2 separate regions of the Homo sapiens genome follow, and region 2 is linked to region 1. The links come from fine-mapping of genetic effects on gene expression. Tissue or cell type: whole blood. Region 1 holds a variant in brackets; the other region holds the start of a gene. All regions are shown on one strand. Distances are between the middles of the regions.

Region 1 (2,500 bases):
GTTCTGATGGCCGGGCATGGTGGCTCATGCCTGTAATTCCAGCCCTTTGGGAGGTGGAGTGGGGTGGCTCGCTTGAGCTCAGAAGTTCGAGACCAACCGGCACAGTATGGTAAAACCCCATCTCTACAAAAAAATACAAAAATTAGCGGGGCGTGGTGGCGCATGCCTGTAGTCCCAGCTACTTGGGAGGCTGAAGTGGGTGGGCTGCTTGAGCCTGGGAGGCAGAGACTGCAGTGAGCCGAGATCATGCCACTGTACTCCAGCCTGGGTGACAGGGACCCTGTCACCAAAGGAAAAAAAAAAAAGGGTCTGTGTTTTGGAGTAAGGGAGCATCAGGCATTAGGCTGGAATCCCATCTCTACAACTTCCTAGGTATGTAACCCTGGGCAGGTTTCTCAACCTCTCTGACCCCCAGTTTCATCAATTGGGATTTTTTGCCGACCAGGTGTGGTGGCTCACGCCTGTAATCCCAGCATTTTTGGAGGCTGAGGTGGGAGGATTGCTTGAGCCTAGGAGTTTGAGACCAGCCTGGGCAACATGGTGAAACCCTGTCTCTACAAAAAAATACAAAAAATTAGCTCTAGCCTAGGCGACAGTGAGACTTTGTCTCAAAAAAAAAAAAAAAAAAAAAAGGGTGGGGGGCTGGGCAAGGTTGCTCATGCCTGTAATCCCATCACTTTGGGAGGCTGATGTGGGAGAATTGCTTGAGGCTGGCCTGTTTAACATAGCGAGAACCCCGTTTATAAAACAAATGCACACAGAAAAATAAAATTTTAAAGAAGAAAAAAAGTGCCAACTTCGTGGGATTTTTGTGTGGGGTTGTTGTGAAGATTAGTAAAATCACATATATGTGATGTATAGGACACTACCAGACTCTAGTAGGCACTTAAAATATAGGGGTCACCAGCCTGGCCAAAATGGTGAAACTCTGTCTCTACTAAAAATACAAAAAATTAGCCAGTCGTGGTGGCGGGCGCCTGTAGTCCCAGCTACTCGGGAGGCTGAGGCAGGAGAATGGCGTGAACCCGGGAGGCGGAGCTTGCAGTGAGCCGAGACCGCGCCACTGCACTCCAGCCTGGGTGACAGAGCGAGACTCCGTCTCAAAACAAACAAACAAAAACCCCACAAAAATTAGCCAGGCGTGGTGGCGGGTGCCTGTAATCTCAGCTACTCGGGAGACTGAGGTGAGATAATTGCCTGAACCTAGGAGGCAGAGGTTGCAGTGAGCTGAGATTGCGCCATTTGCGCTCCAGCGTGAGCAGCAGGAGCGAAACTCCGTCACACACACACACACACACA[C/G]ACACACACACACACACAGCCGGGCGCAGTGGCTCATGCCTCCCAGCACTTTGGGAGGCTGAAGCGGGTGGATCACCTGAGGTCAGGAGTTCGAGACCAGCCTGACCAACATGGAGAAACCCCGTCTCTACTAAAAATACAAAAATTAACCGGGCGTGGTGGCCCATGCTTGTAATCCCAGCTACTCGGGAAGCTGAGGCAGGAGAGTCGCTTGAACCCAGGAGGCGGAGGTTACGGTGAGCCAAGATCGAGCCATTGCACTCCAGCCTGGGCAACAAAAGTGAAACTCTGTCTCAAAAAAAAAAAAAAAAAAAAAAAAAATTGGGGTCAGGGCCAGGTGAGGTGGCTCACGCCTGTAATCCCAACATTTTGGGAGGCTGAGGTGGGTGGATCACTTGAGGTCAGGAGTTCGAGACCAGCCTGGCCAACATGGCGAAACCCCATCCGTCCCTACTAAAAATACAAAAATTAGCCAGGTGTGGTGGCACATGCCTGTAGTCCCAGCCACTTGGGAGGCTGAGACAGGAGAATTGCTTGAACCTGGGAGGTGGAGGTTGCAGTGAGCCAAAATTGATCACGCCACTGCACTCCAACCTGGGCAACAGAACAAGACTCTGTCTAAAAAAAAAAAAAGGGTCTATTAAGGCTGAGTGCAGTGGCTCATGCCTGTAATCCCAACTACTCGGGTGGCTGAGGCATGAGAACTGCTTGAACGCGAGAGGTGGAGGTGCAGTCAGCTGAGATCCCACCAATGCACTCCAGCCTGGGCAACAGAGTGAGACTATCTAAAAAAAAAAAACAAAAAAAACAAAAAAAACACAAATTTACAAAGAATATTAAAAAAGATTATTATTAAAACTTGACATTTGGCCAAGCTCAGTGGTTCATGCCTATAATCCCAGCAAGGTGTGGGAGGATTGCTTGAGCCCAGGAGTTTGAGACCAGCCTGGGCAACATAGTGAGACCGTTTCTGAAAAAAAAAAAAAAAAAAAAAAAAAAAAAAAAATTAGCCAGGTGTGGCGGCTAACACCTGTAGTCACAGCAACTCCAGATGCTGAGGCAGGAGGACTGCTTGAGCCTGGAAGATGGAGGCTTCAGTGAGCTGTGACTGTGCCACTGCACTCCAGCCTAGGTGACAGAGCAAAATCTTGTCTCAAAAACAAAAAAACCCGTGTCATCTGTTATGTCCTCTAGTAAGACT
Region 2 (2,500 bases), 24 kb after region 1:
CCAAAGTGCAGCCCTTCCTCCTGAAGCCTCTGCCCTGCCTCCCTTTCTGGGAGGGCGGGGTGGGGGTGACTGAATTTGGGCCTCTTGTACAGTTAACTCTCCCAGGTGGATTTTGTGGAGGTGAGAAAAGGGGCATTGAGACTATAAAGCAGTAGACAATCCCCACATACCATCTGTAGAGTTGGAACTGCATTCTTTTAAAGTTTTATATGCATATATTTTAGGGCTGTAGACTTACTTTCCTATTTTCTTTTCCATTGCTTATTCTTGAGCACAAAATGATAATCAATTATTACATTTATACATCACCTTTTTGACTTTTCCAAGCCCTTTTACAGCTCTTGGCATTTTCCTCGCCTAGGCCTGTGAGGTAACTGGGATCGCACCTTTTATACCAGAGACCTGAGGCAGATGAAATTTATTTCCATCTAGGACTAGAAAAACTTGGGTCTCTTACCGCGAGACTGAGAGGCAGAAGTCAGCCCGAATGCCTGTCAGTTTCATGGAGGGGAAACGCAAAACCTGCAGTTCCTGAGTACCTTCTACAGGCCCGGCCCAGCCTAGGCCCGGGGTGGCCACACCACAGCAAGCCGGCCCCCCCTCTTTTGGCCTTGTGGATAAGGGAGAGTTGACCGTTTTCATCCTGGCCTCCTTTTGCTGTTTGGATGTTTCCACGGGTCTCACTTATACCAAAGGGAAAACTCTTCATTAAAGTCCGTATTTCTTCTACCTCTGCCTCTTAACCCTTCTGGGAAGCCTATTGTGTACGCCGCGGGCCCTCAGCGGCAGACGGGGAGGCGGGAGGTCGCGGCCGCCCAGGGAAGCTGGGGGTCTGCAGAGTTTGGGTGCGGCAGAGTGGGGCGTTTCGCGCCACCGTCCCCATGGGGATGTCGTGTCCGCAGAGGGGGCTGGCTCCGGGTGGGTCGAGGCGGGAGCCGGGCCTGCCCGGCGCCCCAGCACCGGCCCCCGGGCTACCTGGGCCTCCCGGGTGCGCCTTCGGCTCGCGCGCGCCCCTCCGCGGCGGCTCCACCGCCCGGGATGGTACGGTCCGGCAGCCGGGCCGCGCGCTGCCGCCCCTCGGTGAGCTGGTGTGGGCCGCCGCTAGCGGAGACGACCCTTTCCACTCGCGTGGTGCCGTGGTAAGCCTCGTCCCTCGCCCGCCGCCTGTTTTCAGGCGTAGCGTCTCGTCCGGTCCTTGCTCCCCCTCCCCGCAGCGCTCAGTGGTGGTGGCCGCGACGAGTTCCGGTTCCGGTTGCTGCCGCCGCTGGCGGGCGGCGAGTCTGGAGAGAGCGCGCAGTTTGCGCGGCGGCTCGGCGCTTCCCTGTCGTCGCACTTTGTGGTTGCTGCAGCTCGGGGGCCTGGGCTGCCCCTGACACCCCTTCTGGGCGATGGTGCAGCCCAAGGGCGCCTCCATCCCCCGCCGCTGCCGCTAACCCGGGTCCCCCACTCCATGGCCGCCTCGGCGCCGCCCCCACCGGACAAGCTGGAGGGAGGTGGCGGCCCCGCACCGCCCCCTGCGCCGCCCAGCACCGGGAGGAAGCAGGGCAAGGCCGGTGAGCGCGCTGCGAGGGGCGGGGGCTGAAGAGGCCCAGGACTTGGGAACCTCAGAGGGGAGGGATGGTGGGCGGGGGGTGTTTCACAGTCTGAAGGCTTGAAGGGAGGCTCAGGTGAAAAGGATGGGTGGGTGTAATCCTCCAGGGGTTGGGGGCAGGTGTCACACATTGAGGACTCTAGGGTTTGGAGCCACATGGAATTCAGTACTCACTTGGAGCTTGAGGATATCGAAAGATGGGATATCTTTCATTTAAAGGAAGACGTAGCTGAGAGTATGATCATCTTCACAATCTATTTTTCATATTGCACCCCTTGTTAGCATTTGTTGAATAAATAAGCAAGTATGTATTGACGTTAAAGGAGTTCCTCAGAGCATGGCTGAGAGAAAAGAGGTTGGGGAAACCTCAGGGAAACTTGTCTGCGTCTTCCTTTTGCCGCTCTTCCAGGTCTGCAAATGAAGAGTCCAGAAAAGAAGCGAAGGAAGTCAAATACTCAGGTGAATGGTGGTTGGTGGTGGGTTTGGTTCCCAGCAGCCCCTTGGCGGCACACTGTCTACTCTGCCATTCCAGTATCTGTTTGTATCTTGTATCAGCTGCAGGGAGGAGAGAGAAAACTGTCTTTCTTGCTTTGCTTCTTGTTCTTTCGCTGAACCTTATAACAAGTTTAGGGGAAAGTATCCTCTCCTAAGAGATGATTCGACCAAAGTTCTTACCACGCAGGGTTCCAGTCTCCTCCATGTTTCCTGTCCTGGTTTCCTCCTGATGATAACGTAACACCTACCACTTACTGATCCTTTTTTTAGTGCCAGGGATTGCGCTAACATGCTTTAACAGTTTGGGGAGATAGGCATTATCCCTATTTTACAGATGAGAAATCTGGGGGTTAAAAATGTTAAATACATGCTCCACAGTCTTGAGGTTGTTTTTCAGGGTCAGAGCTGGGATTC

What was found. PIP is the estimated chance that this variant, and not a neighbour inherited with it, causes the effect.
Region 2: it holds the start of PYGO2, and the variant in region 1 is fine-mapped to the expression of PYGO2 in whole blood (INTERVAL, PIP 0.95).

Annotation. Positions count from the first base shown.
Region 1 is chr1:154,984,837-154,987,336 of GRCh38, reverse strand. The region is part of intron 1 of FLAD1 (flavin adenine dinucleotide synthetase 1); the gene reads right to left. Among named protein-coding and RNA genes, the nearest start is that of FLAD1, 2.7 kb to the right of the region's middle. RefSeq lists an enhancer at 1,036-1,725. The variant C/G (reference allele first, on the strand shown) is at 1,300.
Region 2 is chr1:154,960,527-154,963,026 of GRCh38, reverse strand. PYGO2 (pygopus family PHD finger 2) reads left to right here and starts at 1,245. Exons shown (of 3, transcript NM_138300.4): 1 at 1,245-1,553; 2 at 2,001-2,050. The coding sequence starts at 1,451. SHC1 (SHC adaptor protein 1) reads left to right here. Exons shown (of 12, transcript NM_001130040.2): 12 at 1-729. PYGO2-AS1 (PYGO2 and SHC1 antisense RNA 1) reads right to left here and starts at 1,489. Exons shown (of 1, transcript NR_171036.1): 1 at 404-1,489. RefSeq lists enhancers at 158-897, 898-1,638 and silencers at 780-1,189, 1,240-1,699.